Homo sapiens: one gene and its partners. The protein of the gene in region 3 interacts with the protein of the main gene of each other region in a pairwise test. Each region holds a gene or a part of one and is shown on either strand. Other genes may lie near its edges.

What was found.
Region 1: the proteins of PHYHIP (region 3) and MAGED4B interact in a two-hybrid assay, tested with the Homo sapiens proteins (one large-scale study listed by BioGRID).
Region 2: the proteins of PHYHIP (region 3) and HDAC11 interact in a two-hybrid assay, tested with the Homo sapiens proteins (one large-scale study listed by BioGRID and IntAct).
Region 4: the proteins of PHYHIP (region 3) and WDR89 interact in a two-hybrid assay, tested with the Homo sapiens proteins (one large-scale study listed by BioGRID and IntAct).
Region 5: the proteins of PHYHIP (region 3) and FAM131A interact in a two-hybrid assay, tested with the Homo sapiens proteins (one large-scale study listed by BioGRID and IntAct).

What each region holds. Positions count from the first base shown.
Region 1 is NC_000023.11:52,066,378-52,070,553, reverse strand, and holds the start of MAGED4B (melanoma-associated antigen D4), read left to right. Parts: upstream 1-1,370; 5' UTR 1,371-1,424; intron 1,425-2,329; exon of another isoform or gene 2,330-2,350; 5' UTR 2,351-2,381; coding exon 2,382-2,591; intron 2,592-2,855; coding exon 2,856-3,689; intron 3,690-4,100; coding exon 4,101-4,176. UniProt on the Homo sapiens protein: May enhance ubiquitin ligase activity of RING-type zinc finger-containing E3 ubiquitin-protein ligases. Proposed to act through recruitment and/or stabilization of the Ubl-conjugating enzyme (E2) at the E3:substrate complex.
Region 2 is NC_000003.12:13,483,295-13,486,806, reverse strand, and holds part of HDAC11 (histone deacetylase 11), read right to left. Parts: intron 3,344-3,512; coding exon 3,243-3,343; intron 1-3,242. UniProt on the Homo sapiens protein: Responsible for the deacetylation of lysine residues on the N-terminal part of the core histones (H2A, H2B, H3 and H4).
Region 3 is NC_000008.11:22,225,599-22,229,110, forward strand, and holds part of PHYHIP (phytanoyl-CoA hydroxylase-interacting protein), read right to left. Parts: intron 3,312-3,512; exon of another isoform or gene 3,190-3,311; intron 2,789-3,189; 5' UTR 2,760-2,788; coding exon 2,595-2,759; intron 1,428-2,594; coding exon 1,253-1,427; intron 1-1,252. UniProt on the Homo sapiens protein: Its interaction with PHYH suggests a role in the development of the central system.
Region 4 is NC_000014.9:63,639,069-63,643,375, forward strand, and holds the start of WDR89 (WD repeat-containing protein 89), read right to left. Parts: upstream 2,804-4,307; 5' UTR 2,736-2,803; exon of another isoform or gene 2,231-2,735; intron 1-2,230.
Region 5 is NC_000003.12:184,336,182-184,340,411, reverse strand, and holds the start of FAM131A (protein FAM131A), read right to left. Parts: upstream 2,813-4,230; 5' UTR 2,782-2,812; coding exon 2,694-2,781; intron 2,026-2,693; coding exon 1,883-2,025; intron 1,580-1,882; exon of another isoform or gene 1,432-1,579; intron 1-1,431.

The DNA of each region.
Region 1 (4,176 bases), on a different chromosome or scaffold from region 3:
AATACCTTCCATTCATACACAGGGGTCCTGGTGAGGCTGACATAAAAACAAATATAAAAATCTACTACGAATTTTACAAACAGTCCAGGTTCGACTGCAGATGAGACCACAGCATTTTCTGCCTCAAAAGACATCCAAGTGGAGATGTCACGTAGGCAGGTGAATGTACTATGCACTTGGACCTCAAAAGTGAAGTTTGAACTGGGCTTGTAGATTGTGGAGTAATTAGCTCAGACACACAGGTGTCTAATTGTCCTGGCGGACACCAGGAGGGTCTCAGCGGCAGCGTGATTGTATCGCTGATAAGGAAGAGGCCTGACAATCTGAGTAGAGAGTGGACCCGGTGGAGCAATTCTCATACCTGGATGGACCCACATAGAGCCGCAGAGGCTGGGGGCGAGGCGGGGGGAGGCTCTGTCTCCCTGTGTCCTGAATGCGGAGCATGAACTTAGGCCTTCTACAGCACAAACCTTGCTTCTTTGGGACAGATGTTGGGGTGGGGGAGGCCTGTCACTCAGACGGAGGAGGCGGTGCCTCTGTCCCCAGGCCAGCAGGAGCAGGAGGTGGACTTTGGAGTCCGGAAGACCCAGGTTCAAATTTTGCATTTTCTGTTTCCTGGCTCTGTGGTCTAGTTCATGCAATGTGTCTGTGCCTCAGCTTCCTGACACGCCAAATGGGGATGCTGACATCCACTTCCCAGCGCTGCTGTGAGAGGAAGAAAAGCCCCAGCACAGATCCCTCTGTGACATACAAGCTGCATAAAGGGTAGCTGAGGAAGCAGATGTTCCCAGTATGTCTGGGGGCCAGAGAGTTGGCTAGTGGAGAAGCACACAAAGCGAAGTGCCATCCTCTGGCCATGTCCATTTCGTAGCCCCGCAGGTTGAGGATTTCCACTTGTTGCAGTTAGAGACCCAGCTTATTAATTGTGAGACCTCACTAATTGTGACCTAAGGGGTCTTGCCGGGGAAACGGGGCATAGTGTATCCCAGACCAGGCTGGAGGAGTTTGGGTGAAAGGGCAGGGCAGGACAGAGAAGCATTGTGCAAAAGTGGGGGGACTGAGAAGAGATGATTGGGTGGGTCGAGCTGCACTGCAGGGTATGAGTGTGCGCGCCCGCGGTAGGAGGAGGAGGAGGAGGAGAGGTGAAGTGGATCTGGCGGGAAGAGCCCCCCGCACCCTACCTTCGACCCCACCGCCCACCCACCCGCGGAATCGCATGCGCACTGGAGACCTGGAGGAAAGGGCTTTTGTTGGGAAAGCGGGCGGGCTGGAGGGGTCCGCGCATGCGCAGGCTACCCAGCCGCGGGGGGTGCACGGAGAAAAGGGGCGGGGTGGTCCGGGCTGCTGTGCTGGCAGCAGTAGGCGAGGGCGCGGCTGCGGGGTTCCTGGTGCTGAGGACGGACGCCATTGGAGTTCCCGAGAAGGTAAGGATCCAGCCCCAGACAGGACCGGGAGAGGGCGAGTGGAACCCGACACGCTGCGCCCTCCCTCCGCCTCCGGATCTGAACAAAGCCCAAGCACTCAGAACCGGAACCCCATTAGACCCAAGGTCTAGATAGGAGCCCCCATCACCATCAGACCCAGGCGCCCCGATCTGAGCCCTACTGAAACCGGAGCCCAGGATCCTCACCCCTTTAGCAGACCCGTGTGCTCCGAGCTGAGCTCCCTTGGACCTGAGGCCCCACCCCCACCCCAACCACTCCTAGATTACTCGAACCGAGCTGACCGCTTGCCCCCTTCCTGGAGTGCCCAGTCCTCGCGTTTGAGATCTGCAGCGCTCCGATTGGAGCCTCACCTAGGTCTGAGGCCCCCACTCCATCCGCCTCTAGTGCTCGAGTCTGAGCCCCACCTAGGCCCCCCGCCCGGACCTAGCCAAAGGTCCCTGGGGTTCTGTTTCGCAGAGCTTGCGGCTTGCCACTGTCCCTGTTGTCTGAGCTCTCCCATCTGCTCCCCCTTCATCCCGGTCCCCTTCTCTGGCCCGTAAATCCAAACCCTTTGTTTCTCTCTTCCCCAATGCATTCCCTTTGGGACTCTTCGGACCCCAGCCCTCCAGAACACCCCCTCGTCAAATCTAGCCGCTGGGATGGCGAGCCTGCCCATCCTAAACTCCGCTTTCAGTGCGGCGCCTCCTGCGACCTCCTCTGTCCCTTTCCTTGGGCTCTGTCCCTGACCAGGTCTACCCCATCAGAAAGCCAAACCGTCTCCCCCCCGCTCCTCCTCCCCCCCCCCGCCCCCTACTGCCTAATATTGCCTAGTAACCTGATGATTGTCGCCCCTCACCTCCCGGGAGATCCCGCCTCCCATTGGATCCCGCCCCCTCCCCCTGCAGCTGCTTCACCCTCCCTCTCAGGCTGAGCTCTCATCTCCCTGGGACCCGCAGCATGGCTGAGGGAAGCTTCAGCGTGCAATCGGAAAGCTACAGTGTTGAAGACATGGATGAGGGTAGCGACGAAGTCGGGGAGGAAGAGATGGTTGAAGGCAACGACTATGAAGAATTCGGTGCGTTTGGTGGCTATGGCACCCTCACCAGCTTTGACATCCATATCCTCAGAGCCTTCGGAAGCTTGGGTCCAGGCCTTCGCATCTTATCGGTGAGGCCCCTTCCTGGACACCTGCTGGCCTGGGCCTTTCCCCTGTGAATGGGGGAGGGAGGAGGGGGGAGCCAGGAGGGTTGTGTGGGAAAGGACTGCCCAGCTTCCCAAGCCTTCCCTCCCCTGCTCGGAAGAAGAAGATTTGGGAAGGTCTTGGGGTGTTCAGGGCTGACTGCTGGGAAGAGGCTGGCCAGCACAGGGAAGCTAACACAAGTATGTCGTCGAGTGGCCTGCCTTCCCCAACCCCTCTCTCTGGCCTTGCAGAATGAGCCCTGGGAACTGGAAAACCCTGTGCTGGCCCAGACCCTGGTGGAGGCATTGCAGCTGGATCCGGAAACACTTGCCAATGAGACGGCCGCCCGTGCTGCCAACGTAGCCCGCGCCGCCGCCTCCAACCGTGCGGCTCGGGCCGCTGCCGCCGCTGCCCGTACCGCCTTCAGTCAGGTGGTCGCTAGCCACCGGGTGGCCACGCCGCAGGTCTCAGGAGAGGATACCCAGCCCACGACCTACGCCGCCGAGGCTCAGGGGCCCACCCCTGAGCCACCCCTTGCTTCTCCGCAGACCTCCCAGATGTTAGTCACCAGTAAGATGGCTGCCCCCGAGGCTCCGGCAACCTCCGCACAGTCCCAGACAGGCTCCCCGGCCCAGGAGGCTGCTACTGAGGGCCCTAGTAGCGCCTGTGCTTTCTCTCAGGCTCCGTGTGCCAGGGAGGTGGACGCCAACCGGCCCAGCACAGCCTTCCTGGGCCAGAATGATGTCTTCGATTTCACTCAGCCGGCAGGTGTCAGTGGCATGGCCTTCCCGCGCCCCAAGAGACCTGCCCCAGCCCAAGAGGCTGCCACAGAGGGCCCCAGTGCTGCCTCTGGTGTGCCCCAGACGGGACCTGGCAGGGAGGTGGCAGCCACCCGGCCCAAGACCACCAAGTCGGGGAAGGCGCTGGCCAAGACTCGGTGGGTGGAGCCTCAGAATGTTGTGGCAGCAGCTGCTGCCAAGGCCAAGATGGCCACGAGCATCCCTGAGCCGGAGGGTGCAGCTGCTGCCACTGCTCAGCACAGTGCTGAGCCCTGGGCCAGGATGGGAGGCAAGAGGACCAAGAAGGTGAGATCCCCCTGCCCCCTGCCACCTCCACACCCCCTTGCTCCTGTCCTTTCCTTCTCCTCCCTTTCCTGCTCCTCTCCTCCCTCTCCTCTCCCCCTTCTTCCTCTCTTCTCCTCTTTCCCCTCCTTCTCTCCTCACCTCCCCTCTCCTCCCCTCCTCTCCTCTCAGCTAGTCCATGTTTCTCCAACACAAGTTTGCTGAGCATGTTTTCACTCCACGTAGTCCCTACCCTCAGGACTGGTGGGAGAAGAGGCTGGCTCAGTGCCTGGCACTTAGTAAGCACGCAGCACATGCCAGCCGCTGCTGGTACTGCTCTCATTTCCAAGAGCCTGCTACGGGTGAGGTGCGTGCCGGGTGCTTTGGCACGGGGAGCCTGGTAGCCCTGGGTCTCTCCTCTCTCAAATGATACAGTCCAAGCACCTGGATGATGAGTATGAGAGCAGCGAGGAGGAGAGAGAGACTCCCGCGGTCCCACCCACCTGGAGAG
Region 2 (3,512 bases), on a different chromosome or scaffold from region 3:
AGGAGTTCGAGACCAGCCTGGCCAACATGGTGAAAACTCCGTCTCTACTAAAAATACAAAAATTAGCCGGGCATGGTGGCAGGTGCCTGTAATCCTAGCTACTTGGGAGGCTGAGGCAGGAGAATCGCTTGAACCAAGAGGCAGAGGTTGCTGTGAGCTGAGATCGCACCACTGTACTCGAGCCTGGGCAACAAAGCGAGATTCCTTCTCCAAAAAAAAAAAAAAAAAAAAAAAACACCTCTACATGAGTATCACCTGCTCCTTTGTTTAGTCTCAACTCAAACATCACCTCCTCTGTGAGGCCCTCCCTGACCATCCAATTACCCTCTATTTTTCACTTTCTTCATAGCCCTTGGTGCTCTCTAAAATGCTCTTGGGTGGTTGCTTCCTTAATTTTAATCTTCCACGACTCAAATGCAAATCCATGGTGGCAGAGAGCCCTGCTGTCTTATTCTCTCTGTACAGTTGGCATTCAATACAGATGTGTTGAATGACTGACTACTTCTTCATCTTTTTCTTTTTTTTTTTTTTTTTTTTTTGAGATGGAGTTTCACTCTTATTGCCCAAGCTGGAGTGCAATGGCGCAATCTCGGCTCACTGCAACCTCTACCTCCCAGGTTCAAGTGATTTTCCTGCCTCAGCCTCCCAGGTAGCTGGGATTACAGGCATGCACTACCATGCCTGGCTAATTTTGTAGTTTTAGTAGAGACAGGGTTTCTCCATGTTGGCCAGGCTGATCTCAAACTCCCGACCTCAAGTGATCCGCCCGCCTCGTTCTCCCAAAGTGCTGGGATTACAGGCATGAGTCACTGCACCCGGCCTACTTCTTCATCTTAATAGGTGCCGTAGAAACCATCATGTTTCTCCTTTTGTTCTGACTGCCAGGGAGCTCCAAGCCAAATATGCAGCTGGATCACCATCTTGGTTAACTTTTTCAGTGGACATACCTGAATTCTCCTCCTACCCTCAACCTCAGTTTTCTACTTGGGACTCTACCTGTTAATACTTTTATTATTTTTTTTAAGAGACAGTCTCACTCTGTCATACCAGCTGGAGTGCAGTGGTGCAATCATAGCTCACTACAGCTTCAAACTCCTGGGCTCAAGGTCTCCTGCCTCAGGCTCCCAAGTAGCTAGGACTACAAGTGCATGCCACTACACCCAGCTATTTTGTATTATTATATATCACATAGTAAGCTGCTTTCAGGCTTTTGGGGGACCAAGGCCAGGCATGCAGCCTGCCCAACACAGTTCCCCTGAAGGCCCCTCAAATGGGTGGGGCCCTGGAACCTAGGCCCCCCACCCCCAGCCTGGTTCAATCACACCATTCTGTTTTGGTTTCTCCCTGCCCCAGCTGAGCGCCTCCTGTCCCTTCCTTCCCCTCACCCTCGGGACTCTGGCAGGCATGTCCTCCTGGCCCAGCCCTAGGCTGTGGACTGTGACCACGCATGCCTGGGCCCCAGGAAACCAGGGCAGCCAAGCACTGGGCTTCCTGCCAAGGCCTCACACCCCTCTCTCTCCCAGGAGCCAGGTTTCAACCTCTTCCTGGTAATCTTTCATGTGCTCACACTGTCGTGGCCCTATCTAGAATTCTCACACCTCAGGCTGCGGTTGGGGAGCAGGGAGGCAGCAGCCCTGACTGGGAACCTAGAAGACTGGACTGGATGACCTGCCAGGGGTCTCCCCAAGGCCCGGCCAACTTCCCAGGTGACCTTGAGCACAGCCTCTTTCTGGACCTAGGCTTTTCCACCTGTGGAGCAGAGGGGCCTGCTGGCCTCAGGCATCCACTGTGGCTCTGAGTCTAAGGTGAGCTCAGCCAGGGAGCCTGGGGGTCAGGGCTCCCACACTCTTGGGGCAGATAACCTGAGGCATCCCTGACCCCACCCCCACCAAGGCAGGCTGGCAGTACCAGATTCCAATGCAAGCCCCCGCCCCAACCTCCCCTCTGTTCCTACAAAGAGCACTGAACTGAATGCCTCAGCCCTCAGAACTTCAGCCACTAATAGGAGCTGTGTCCTTCTCTGGAAAGAGGTCACAAGCAGGCAGCCAGTGTGCCCAGTTTGGTCTACAGGTGGGCTTTTACAATCTTATAATGAGTGCCACATTAAGAAATCAGGGCCGGGTGTGGTGGCTCACCCCTATAATTCCAGCTACTTCGGAGGCTGAGGCAGAAAAATTGTTTGAACCCGGGAGGCGGAGGTTACAGTGAGCTGAGATCGTGCCACTGCACTTCAGCCTGCTCAACAAGAGCGAGACTCAGTCTCAAAAAAAAAATCAGGAAATGTCACTTAATAATCTGGATTCCTGGCTTCTCTTTGAAGACCAGGTGCTCTGGCCATGCCGGGCCCACAGTGGAGCTGAGGAGCCGCCCCTTGGGAAGGGGCAGGAGTTCACCTCAGACTCTACCACCGGCCCTCCCACTTGTTTCTCTTCTCTGCTGAGCCCTGAGGGTTTCAAATTAGTTTTTAGACCAACAATTTTCAACAAAACTTCAGCAGAAGTACTTAGACCAGAGTCTTAAACTTCAGCCCAATATAAAAAATAGGGTGGGTGCGGTGGCTCACGCCTGTAACCCCAGCACTTTGGGAGGCCGAGGTGGGCAGATGACCTGAGTTCAGGAGTTCGAGACCAGCTTGGCCAACACGGCGAAACCACATCTCTACTAAAATACAAAAAAAATTAGCCAGGCATGGTGGCACGCGCCTGTAATCCTAGCTACTCACTCAGGAGGGTGAGACAGGATAATTGCTTGAACCCGGAAGGCGGAGGTTGCAATGAGCCGAGATCACATCACTGCACTCCAGCCTGGGCGACAGAGTGAGACTCCATTTCAAGAACAAAAACCAACAAAAAAATGAACAAACAAACAAACAAAATAGACCAAAGTGAAAGAGCTATGTATGGTTGGAGGACAGGGGCTGGGGTCTCGGAGGCGTGTCGACAGAGCACAGCTTGAAAGTCATAATGTAGAAGCCTAAAATTCTATGAAGGCTTTCATACGCCCTGGAGAAGGGGAGGACACCACCCTCAGAGTGGCCTGGCCCAAACTGAGGTCTGCCTTTTTATGACCTCTCTCCTTCTCTTGGGGACCACAGACTCCCATGTTCCTCCAACACTAGGGACATGAATGGGTGCCCTGTGAGACTTGGCTTCCCCAGGCTGAGTCACCTCCTGCCTCTGGCCACTCCTGGCCAGCAGCCCCCTGCCCCAGGCCCGCAGCCCCCCAGGCCCGACATCCTGTACCTTGAGCTCATTAAGATAGCGCCTCGTGTGCACCACCAGCAGGTCCTCCTCCGAGGCCTCCCGCGCCTCCACCAGCATGCTGTCAGACAGAAGCTTCTCTTCTGAAACCACAGAGGGAGCATCCTGCTTCCCCACTGACCTCAAGGCCAGGGCCAGCCCCAGACCCTCCCACAGGCTGCAGACTTGGCCTGTGGCAGCCCCTGCCCCAGGGGTAGGTAGGCACTGCTGGCTTGTGGGCCTTCTGAGAAGGGGTAGCCTCCCCAGCCACTG
Region 3 (3,512 bases):
AGCCTGGCCAACATGGTGAAACCCCATCTCTACTAAAAATACAAAAAAAAAAAAAAAATAGCCAGGCATGGTGGTGGGCGTCTGTAATCCCAGCTACTCAGGAGGCTGAGGCAGGAGAATCGCTTGAACCCGGGAGGCGGAGATTGCAGTGAGCCGAGATCACGCCACTGCACTCCAGCCAGGAGGCGACAAGAGCGAGATTCCATCTCAAAAAAAAAAAAAAGGCAGAAGGAGAAAAAAAAGAAAAAGCACCACTCAAAAGACAACAGCAGCTCAAGGAGACTTGGGGCATAAATCTTGGCAAAGGATAGAGCCAGCAGCCTCAGAGGCCCGGGGCTGAGAATGTTCCGTGTCTCTTCTGTGTGACAGAGAGATCTGGAGCAGCTCTCACCGTGAACACCAAAAGAATGTAATCTTGTGGGGGCAGACCCTGAGTCGTGAGGGACCAAGCACACATAGGCCCACTGTTTGTTTGTGATGGAGTCTACAAGTTAAGTTCTGCTAAGAGAGTTTGCGGGGCCATTGACCAGGGGCCATTTTCCCAGGCTACGTGAAGGCTCAGAACAAGTGAAATGTGATTGCCTCACCAAGTGCACATTGACAAATAATTGATTAAGCAAAATGTGGTCTATCCATACAATGAAATACTATCCAGTTTCAAAAAGGAAGGAAATTTTGGTATATTCCAGTCACAAAAAGACAAATCCTATACAATTGTACTGATATGAGACACCTAGAGGAGTCATATTCATAGAAACAGAAAGTAGAATGGTAGCTAGCAGAGGGAAATGGGGGGCGGTTATTTAATGGGTATAGAGTTTTGGTTTTCCAGGAAGAAAGGTTCTGGAGACTGGCTGTACAACAATGTGAATATACTTAATACCACTGAACTGTACACTTCAAAATGGTCGAGACGGCAAATTTTACGTCATGCACCTTTGACCACAAGGTTTAAAAAGATGCCTGTGATCTGGTACCAAGCCCGAAAAGTAACTCCCTTTCTTAATGGAAGTGGTCTTGCCAGCGTGATTAGTGGGGTTCGCATTTGCCTCCAGTGAGAGAAGAGAAAGGTTGGGCTCCTGGAGGCAGGGAGGGTGTCATGCCCGTGCATCTCCCCTGTGGCCCAAGCACGCTGCCTGGTGGACAGAAGGTGTTCATCAGTGTTTGCTGGACTACGAGGAAGACCCGCCTTGACCACAGCAAAGCCCGACGTGCCAAGCAGCAGGACAGGGGTGTGATAGCAGGGCCTCACCCCCAGTGCAGAACTCCACCGTCTCGCTCCAGCCGGACACCAGGTACTCCCCATCGCTCTGCTTCACTGCCGTCTGCACGGCCACACTGTACTCCGTGCGGGGGCTCAGGAACCAGTGGCCTCTCACCGTCATGGGCAGCGGCACTGCCTTGGCCACGAGCTTGGTGGGGACGTCCTGAGAAACAGGGTACAAACAGAGAGCCAGGCGTCAAACAGGGGTTCATGCCCAATCTGGGCATCACCCCAGAATCCCCACTCCCCAGATGGCCCTGTTTCTCCTGAGCAGGACCAATCTTGAGGATCCAATGGCTCCATACCCTGGCCACCATTTTCCTGGGAAGGCCACCCAGACACTCCACAGCCTTGGCCCCTCCTCGAACCCCCCTGACACCCCGTTCTCTTGGGAACGGAGGGGAAAAGCCACAAAGTTGAGGACGGCAAGGCCTTCATTTTTTAAGGAGACTTTGAGAGCTCTGCACACTGCAGTGCCGTCTCCACGGCAACGGCAAATGCTGAGAAGCCAGGGAGGAAGGGAAAATATGCCTTATTCTTTGGGGGGGAGGGTTAAGGGGGTGGTGTTGAACATTCACGTCACCGTGGCAACTGGCCTGCCAAAAGACACCCAGATCGGGAGAGCCGGTTCCAGAGAAAGAGAGCGGGTGAGTAACCCACGCCGGTGCCGTCGGCCTGGGAGCCAGCTGGCCGCCTCACTCCCCCTGCCTCTGCCAGCTTGAGAGGATGGGGGTCTTCCTCCCACCCACCCCCACACTGGCTTTTAACCCCAGGAAAGGACACACCCACGGAGGACTCTCTCCCATTCCTTTTCTAAGTCAAGCAAATGGCAGGCCAGCAGGTGAGGGGCCCGAGAGGGAGAACTGAGGCCACAGCAAAAGGGCTCCGCCCCGACCGAGGCCCGTGTGGCCCACCCAGCCAACAGCGAGGCTGTGCCCTGAGCCGGGGCTTTGTCGAGACTTGAGACGTCATCCCCATAGGCGAAGCCTGCGGCCCCACCCTACCCGGGCTCTCTGCCCCTGCCTGAAGTCTCAGTTGTGGCGCTGATAACAACGCTCCCTCTGTGCTAGGCGCCGGGCCAAGCACCACGCAAACATGACTCACTGCATCCTCTCCACGACCCCGTGAGGCTTGGCATTGTTATTCCCTCTTTACCAGGGAAGGAGCTCAGGCTCAGAGAGGTCAAGTAACTTTCCCAAAATGACACAGGAAGAAGAGTGTGGATTTTAACCAGCCTCTGACTCCAAGCCATCACTTCCAGGTGTTCCCTTATCCGGCCTCCTTCAGGAACAGAAGCTGGGGAGGGGCTCCCAGGACACCTTCTACTCACCCGGTGCTTGAACTTGTTGGAATTCTTATTCTCCTTCTTGTTAAGGTCAATGAAGTAATGGGTGACCCTCTCCAGGTCACTGTCCTCCATGGCCCAGGAGATGCGGAAGGAGTCGCAGGTGATGTTGTTGATCTCAATGCTGTGGGGCGTGGACAGCAGCTCCATGCTCCCGTCAGGGTTGTCTCCTGTGGGGACTGAGGAGGAGGGAAAGGGTCAGTACATCCCTTGACCCCGGCGAGCTTTCTGGAATGTCCTCCTCCCAATATCCCTTTCGAGGCGGAACCTCAAGGACCCCTGGAATCCACATGCCTCATGAACCAGATGGGAAAGACTGTACAGGGGAGGCTGGAGAAGGATGATGGAGGGTGGAAAGGGGTGCCTGCCCGGGGGGCTCTTTGCTCTCCTCGGAGGGGTCTGCAGAGCAGACGGCACCTGACAGGTGGCAGAGGCAGTGGGAATGCTGCAAAGCCGGGCGGGGACAGATTTGCAGCAGATGGAGCCGAGGAGGGAGGGGGCCCTCAGCCAGCAGGCGTGAAAAGAGAAAGGGGTGGGGGTGGAGAGGACGGGTGAGAGGCGGAGGAAACGCAGGAAGCACCTGCTGTGGAGCGGAGGTGCGAGGCTTGGGGCAGGTGACAGCCAAGAGCTCACAGGTGCCAGGGCCCTCGGATTCAGGCCTCTCTCCTCACTGGGGTCAGCAAGCGTTGCCGCGGTACATGGCTGGAAGGACAAGTGCCACGTTGGTGCATGTGGACACATTCGTGGTGGGAGGGGTACGCGGCACAGCCGGCTTCAAGCTCTTTTTCCACCCATAACTTTTTTTGATGATCCCTCTTTCTCTTTCGGCCAATCTTCTCTTGACTCCTTTCAATCATGACTTTTAACATTAACATCTATTAGGGGCCGGCCATGTGCTCATAA
Region 4 (4,307 bases), on a different chromosome or scaffold from region 3:
AAGAGCCACAAGCCAAGGAAGACAGGCAGCCACTACAAGCTGAAAAAGGTAAGGAAATGGATTTTCTTCTCACAGCCTCCAGAAGGAATTGGGCCTGCAACACTTTGACTTTAGTCCAGTGAAACTGATTTCATACTTCTGACCTCCAGAACTAAAAGACAATAAATGAGGCTGAGCATGGTGGCTCATGCCAGTAATGCCAGAACTTTGGGAGGCCAAGGTGGGAGGACTGCTTGAGCCCAGGAGTTTGAGACCCACCTGGGCAACATAGCGAGACCTCATCTCTACCAAAAAAAAAAAAAAAAAAAAGGAAGAGGTGACTCTCTTGAGTACATCTGCACTCCCCTTTCTTAAGTGTGTACTTTTCACCAAAGGAAAAAAAAAAAAGAAAGAAACAAAGGCAGAAAGAATAAATGTGTGTTATTCGAAGTCACTAAATCTGTTGTAATTTGTTACAGTAGCTATATGAACAAAATACACCCTTTTGACAGTTTGGCGATAATCTGTACATAATCTGCCCTAAAATATTGAACAGAATTAACATAAAGACCATTCCAGTTCAGATTTATCAAAATTCTCTTGTATTTTCTACCAAGTAAATGAAAATATCTTAAACACATGGAAATCACTGAAAATGTAGTTCTTTAAAGCACATAGGGAAAAAGTAAAAAAGCAGTAGCATCTTCAGTCGTATTTGCAGCTCATAGTGTCAGTTGCAGAAAAAGTAGTCATGACTTTAGTACAAAAGTACAACTCAAAAACTTCACGGGTTTGGCACAGTGGCTCGTGTGTAATCCCTGCCACTTGGGAGGCTGAGGCAGGAGGATCACTTGAGCTCAGAAGTTCGAGGCTGCAGTGAGCTAAGACTGTGCCACCGCACTCCCGTCTGGAAAAACACCCTGTATTTACAAAGTGAGAGAAAAGAACCCAAAAAGTAGTTACATGGGCTTGATCTTACTTTTGCTTTACAATAGCTACAACAATCTAAGGTAAGAATACAAACCAGGTAAGTAACATAGCTGCATTCACAGGAAAGTATTCCTGAATACTGAACAAGGAGATAAGCAGTCCATAGACGTTTCAGAGGATTTCTCACTTAAATGGTACTTGACTGCAAGTTACCACTGTTTTACTCGGCCATAGGTTGCAGTGCAGTCCAGGCTCCACAAGAAAGAATTTGAAAAGCAGAAACAGTCACGTGGCTTTCATCGGTAACATATTTTGTATCTATTAAATTATTTAATCCTCAGAACTCTAAGTAGTCAAGTTTGGTATTTATTTCAATTATACAGGTGAAAAAGCTGATGCTGACTTGTCCAGTCAAAGGTCAGTAACTGGTGCCTACTGCGATGTCTTTCCTCTAGATCATTTTACCTTGGTAACAATCGATTAATTCACTTCTAGGTGTGTTTTATTGACTTTTTTTTTTCTCTTTTTTGAGACGTTGTCTCACTCTGTCGCCCAGGCTGGAGTACAGTAGCACGATCTTGGCTCACTGCAACCTCTGCCTCCCGGGTTCAAGCGATTCTCCTGCCTCAGCCTCCCGAGTAGCTGGGACTACAGGCGCCCGCCACATTTTTGCATTCGTAGTAGAGACGGGGGTTTCACCATGTTGACCAGGCTGGTCTCGAACTCCTGACCTCGTGATCCGCCCGCCTCGGCCTCCCAAAGTGCTGGGATTACTGGCGTGAGCCACCGCGCCCAGGCTTTTATTGACTTTAAATAATTTCAAATTAATAAAGAAAACGGCCGGGCACGGTGGCTCACGCCTGTAATCCCAGCACTTTGGGAGGCAGAGGCGAGTGGATCACCTGAAGTCAGGAGTTCGAGACCGGCCTGACCAGTATGGTGAAATCCCGTCTCTACTAAAAATACAAAAATTAGCCGGGCGTGGTGCCAGGCGCCTATAATCCCGGCTACTCGGGAGGCTGAGGCTGGAGAATCGCTTGAACCCGGGGGGCGGAGGTTGCAGTAAGCCGAGATCGCCCCACTGCACTCCAGCCTGCGCGACAGCCTGAGACTCCATCTCAAAAAAAAAAAAAAAAAAGAAAAAGAAAAAGAAAAACAAAAAAGAAAACAGGAGCAACATTTTACAAATTATACCATCTTTTAATTTTACATCCATGGAAGCTGAATGCCACAATTTGTCAGAGACAAGCTAAAGAAAACACAAGAATGAGTAATGTCTAACACTGCTTCGCGTGAAAATGAGAACACTCACAGTACCTACCTCTTTAGATAGCCATGTGGTTTAAATGATATAATAGACCAGTTGCTGGTATCATACCACATCCCATACTACGGGTCGTCTCTTCCCAAGTGAAAATCTGCTTTCTGGCCTACAAAAGGATTATACTAAACCCTTTTAGTGGTGGGGAGAGTATCCGTGGAGAGGAAAGAGCAGGAGGAAACAGGTCTTTCCCTGAAAATGAGCAAGGGCGTTTGGCTTTTATTGAAAAACGCCCCAGAGGAAGTACTGGGAACTGCACCGGCAACAGCAGCCTGACCCGCAGAAGTTTCTTTGGCCAGGGCCAGCACAGGTTTGACCTGGTGGCTCCGACGGCGGAGCGAGACTGCCAACACGTGCACACTCCGTCCAGACCTCCCACTTCCCTCCGCGCTCCCGCGATAGCTGTCCAGCAACTCTAGCTTTCTAGACTCAACCACGGCGTCGCCGCTCGTCGAGAGGGCTGCCCATCCCGGGGACCCGCCCAGCCTGGCCCAGCAAAATGTACCTTAGTAGCCTCAACCTGTACCGGAGAAAACGCAGGCTGCGCGGCGGCTTAGAGCGGTCAAGTGGAACCCCGCCTCGACCTCTCTGATTGGGTAATGCGCACAAGAAAATCAAGAGGATTGGTCGGCTGCAGAGAGGCGGCCCGTAACGCGACGCGAAAGAAGTGGGGCATAGCGGCCCGGGGAATTCTTGCTAGCTTCCGATTGGACGAAAGCAGAACGCCTGCCCCTTCGTAGACCCAGCGTACGTACAACGCTCACACCACCACGCCGTACGCTGCGTTAGCGGAAGTTTAATGGCCCCATTGGTGGGATGCGTGGCCAATAAAGGGCAAGAATAAGGCGGATTCCGCCTTCCTCGTGGCTGACTGGATGCATCCGCTGGTACTGATTTACGTGAGTTTCAGCATTTAGACGTTCCGAGTTTCCACCGAGCCAGAGTTGGGTAGAGAGTTATTAAGATGACTAGGAGACTAATGCGGGGAGAAATAATTTAGTAGTTAGACTCAGGCCCTGAAACTACCACTCGTGTTCAGAAAGTCTACGTAATACCTTATTGTTTTCACGCGAAGAAACCAGCCCTTCAGGCCGGGCTGAATGTGGTTTAGGGATTCTCTGGCTGTCATTGGGTGAAAAAGCGATCAGTTTGAAGGTAGCTCCGCCTGGGCTCTAGGGAACTCTGGGATTTGTAGTCCGGAACTTTCGAGTCCTGTAGCTTTAAATGTGGTTGTTGCTACTGAGTTCTTTCATGTTGTTAATAACACCCATTGACATTTATTGTGGTTTGTTGGACTTTTTATCCTTTCGTTTATCAGCAGCATTAAAGACAACATTTAAGAAATGTGTAAACACTGCATGTATGTTCGTAAACAATAAATGTTAGTGTTTCCAACAATTTACTGCTGTGCCTAGCTGTATACTATATGTTCATGCTTACTGTACTAAGTAGATACTAAAATTATTTGTTTCTAAAACTTTTGCTGTTACAACAAAACAGTCTGATTTTCATATTAGTGTCCATTTACGATTATTTGAACCCTACATTTAGCAATTATGTGTACTGTGATGGCATAGGTAGCAGCTGCTTACATGAATCAAGTGTTGTTATGACATGAAGCAGAACTGGCTGCTATCTTCACAGGAAAATAGGGCTATGCTTAAAATGTCAAGCAAGACCACCATCAGGAGGAATACACATTGTATATTATTAAAGACTGTATTATAGTGTCTATTTTCAGCCTTTATTAAAACAGTTTTAGGACAGGCTTTTCCTGAGTCTATAGAATCCTGAACTCTTCTGTGAGCTAATTTAGCGGTATTTCATTTTTGTGTCTAGCAAAAGTAAAACCATTAATAAATACCAAAAACTTGCTGAGTAGACTTTTCGCTTTCGAAAAATTTTAATATTTTTTTCCTATTTTACATGTAATACAAACTTTCGACTGTAGAAGAAAAAAACATGATTTCGGATGTATGTAATACTTCTACACTTCTAGATTAAAATTAAGTACACTTTACAGAATTAAAGCTAAGCAAAAACTGCGTTCATTACTGATGCTTGTAATTATTGCATT
Region 5 (4,230 bases), on a different chromosome or scaffold from region 3:
GAGGCGGAGGTTGCGGTGAGCCGAGATCGCACCACTGCACTCCAGCTTAGGCTACGGTGCAAGACTCCATCTCAAAAAAAAAAAAAAAAAAAAAAAATGCATAGGCTGGGCCAGGCGTGGTGGCTCACGCCTGTAATTCCAGCACTTTGGGAGGCCAAGGGGCCAAGGTGGGTAGATCATCTGAGGTCAGGAGTTTGAGACCAGCCAGGCCAACATGGTGAAACCCCATCTCCACTAAAAATAATTTAAAAAATGGGCAGGGCATGGTGGCGGGTGCCTGTTATCCCAGCTACTCAGGAGGCTGAGGCAGGAGAATTGCTTGAACCCAGGAGGCGGAGATTGCAGTGAGCCAAGATTGTGCCACTGCACTCCAGCCTGGGCGACAGAAAAAGACTCTGTCTCAAAAACAAGCAAACAAAAATGCAAAGGCTGGATGAATGAGGTAAGATATAATGTAAACAGTTTTCCTGGAGTGCAGCTGGTCACAACACATCTCTAAAATCTTGTCTAGCCTACGCTACTGTCCAGTGAGGTTAGTGCAGGCATCATACCCAGGCCCTGAAGGATCCCACTCTGTGACACCCTTGCCTCCTTCCAAGCCTCCTTTGAATCCACTGCTGATCTCCTCTGCCCAATAAAACCCCCCTTCTCAGGCCGGGCGCAGTGGCTCACGCCTGTAATCCCAGCATTTTGGGAGGCCGAAGCAGGCGGATCACCTGAGGTCGGGAGTTGGAGACCAGCCTGGCCAACATGGTGAAACCCCGCCTCTACTAAAAATACAAAATCAGCCGGGCGTGGCAGCGCATGCCTGTAATCCCAGCTACTCTGGAGGCTGAGGCAGGATAATCGCTTGAACCCCAGAGGCAGAGGCTGCGGTGAGCCGAGATCGCACCATTGCATTCCAGCCTGGGCAACAAGAGCGAAACTCCGTCTCAAATAAATAAATACATAAAAATAAATAACAAAAAACAAAAACCCTTCTCCACCAATCCCTGTCAGCAAGCAGCCCGCCTGCCTCCAGGAAAAGGAACTCAGCTTTCCTCTGGGCCAAGAATGCCATCCTTACGTGAAAAAATGCTTGCCATCACTTAAGGCCCATCTCAAGTGTCACCTGCAAATAATGCTTTCAGCCGACAGCCTCTTCTTTTCTCTGACACACCCCGCCCCCATCATTGCCCTTGTCTGTCTCCCGAGGGAGCTCAGGATGGCAAGGCCTAAGTCTGATGCACGTAAGTTCCTAACTCCACCCTGTACCTGGCTCAGGGCTCCCTGACAAGCCCCAGCAAATGTTTCCCTCACTTAATGAAGTTGGAGGCACACATCCCTCCCCGGCATTGCCCAGCTCTCTTCTATCACGTTCCCGTCCCTCACAAGGGCAGCCAACACTGCCCCTTGACCTGAGGCCCACCCTCGATCCCTCCCCTTGGGTACCTGGCTGACAGGGCCCCCAGGGTGGCGCCAGTAGCCTCCAGCCAGGCCTAGGCGGGGGAGCACCTGCTGGGTGTTTCTTAGCTTGCTCTCCCTCCCTCGCTTCGCTCCCCTCAGCCGCCGCCATCCGTGCCCGGCGCTCCGCGCAGCTGCGGCCCAGGCCCAGAGAAAAGGTGTATGTCTCCCTGGCAACCCATCACCACGCAACAGGGTCTCCCGGGATACGGCCCGGGATGCGCTGACGTCAGCGCGGAAGGCGCGAGCTCTCCGCCTGCTGGCACAGCGCCGAGCAGAGCAGACCGGCACGGGGGCGGCCTCCCGGCCCGCCGCCGGATAGCGCCTCCGCCCGCCGGAAAAGGGAGCCAGAAGCTGGCTGGCCAGGCGTGGGTGGGGGCTGCAGATCCCCTTTATATGGATGACGTCCTCCTTCCCCCCACCACCAGGGGCCCAGCACCTCTGGCAAGTCCTGACTGTCCACCGAGGAAGGGCGGGAGGACCTGCTCCAGCCTCGGAGGGTTCGAGCAGATCCCAAAGAGGATAGAGAGAGACCCCGAGGAAGTTCGATCCACTCCACAGCCCAAGCGGGGTCCGAGGACACTGAGAGGAAGGGGAAAGGCTGTTGAGCTGTGCCCCTACTTCTGCAGAGATCCCCATTTTCATCCAGTATTGCCGTATCATTTCTCGGCCCCTCCCCCACCTTCCAGAAGACCAGCGCCCACTGAGTGCTCTCCTCAACTCTAAAAGCCCCCATCCCACACATCACTGACCCTCGGGCCCCTGGGGCCATTCTGTGGCAGCCCACTTGCCACCTTCCTGCTCTGGATAAATTTTGCCTCAAAACCCTAGGGTGAAACCAAACAATGATAAATTCTGACTCTCCTTCCCGTTTCCCAGCCTACCCATTCCTCTTGGAAAGCACACTGAGTTCTTCCGCCATCACTGTCCCCCCCACCACCGCCACCCTGGACCCTTTGCAGGAGGGTTGCCTTCCTTCTCTCTTCCTGCTGCCTTCTTTCCTCTCGCCAGCCTCAGCTGGTCCACAGCTCTTTACTCTTCTTTTCTGACGAACTCATGATATTTTTTCTGATTTTCACCCCTGTCCCCTGAAGCCGTTTCCTGATGCCCTGTCTGGCCCCAGCCTGGTTCTCCCTGTTTCAGCCTGGTTCTTAATATCTAAGCCAGAGTAATTTTCCTTTTCCACCTAAGCACCCTACTGCTCAGCTTCCCATCATCTCCCAGATCACATCCATGATCCCTGGTCTCACCTCTGCGACTTGTCTGACAAGTCCATCGTCCTCCAGGCCCTTCACGCTGCCACAGAAACATTTTGCCCAGCACAGAAATCATAGGCATGCTGGCTGTGTTGATGCAGAGAACCAAAAGCCCAGAACCGCTCCAGGCTCAGCTCCCAGTTCTATTCCTGTTTTGGCTCCGGATGCTGAGCCAGTCCCCTCCCCATTTGGAACCTGTGCCTAGTCACATAAGGAGAACATTCCTGCCTCATGGCTCTGAGGAGGTGGGAACACCAGGGCTCAGCCAAGCTCTCTGGGACTCGGGGAGCTGAGGCCCATTCCCTAGACAGTGCCAACAGGCAATGTACATCACAACTGACCTTTAGCTGGAGCAGCCGTCTCTATCCCTGAGCCTCGGCCAGCTGTTGGTCCCCAGAAATGCTACCAACCAGAAGGAAAACAGGAGGTTACAGGCCATCCCTGGCCCCCAACTGGTACCTAACCAGGGCTCTCGAGGCCAGTCCTGAGGTCAGCCAAACTCACCCCTGACAAGAGAAGGTGATGACTTCCTGAACTCCAAGCCTTGATAGGGCCAGAGAGATCAGAGCAGTCAGCTGCTCCTCAGCTTCAAAAGCCACGAGGTTAACTTAGGACTACAAATCCCAGAATTCCTCAAGGGAAGTACAAATCTCAGCCAGTCTTAGCTCCAAAGAACATCAAGTACCAACCACACCAAGGCCTGTGTGACTGACCACCTGCCCTGAAGGTCCAGGACCCATCCCAAACCCAGTCCTGCCTTGCCTTATGCGTGGAGAAATCCACCACACCGGAGTAAAGGAAGCTGGCCGACCTCTGATGCACAGGACTACGGCCAGGCCCGGTGTGCATGGCCACCCACGGAAACCGAGGCCCAGGCAGGGGTCAGCACTGTGGGAAGGAAGCCCTGATGGCCTGCCTCTGGGTTCCTCTTTCCCTCCACAGAGTAGAGTGATTTGTTTTTGCTGAGTGGGGGCAGGACATTAAAACAACTGTAATAGGTGAGAGGTGATTCAGTGTTCACAGGTGCCCCAAACGGGACCTCAGTCCCCCTTCGCCGACTGACTGAAGAGGGGAGTCAATGTCCGACAAAAATTCTGTGGTAGGGTGCTTAGCCAGGACCGAAAGGCTACCTCTTTAAGAAGATGGGGACACGGCTGGGAGAAGCAGGTTCCCAGCACAGGGCCACTCCCAGGACTGTGAAGGCAGAGGTGTAGGCGGAGGGGAGTGTGTGTGTGGGCGCGCAAGGCCAGTCGCCGAGGGCTGGAGTGGTGGGGGCATCGGGCTGCCCAGCCCCTCCCGGGGCTGTGCGTCTCCGGCCACCCTGAGCAGTGGGCACACGGCAGCCAGCGGCGAGACCATGCGTCTGCCCTGCAAAACCCCAAGGCAGGCAGGCCGTGGGAGCGAACCGGAGTCGGTCTGGCCCCTTCCCTGCTCATTCCCGCTCCCTCCTGTTGCCTGGCCCGCCTCCCGGTGCAGGCTCCTCCCTCTCCCGACACCGGCCCCCTCCTCAAGGCCCCCACCCACCCGCGGC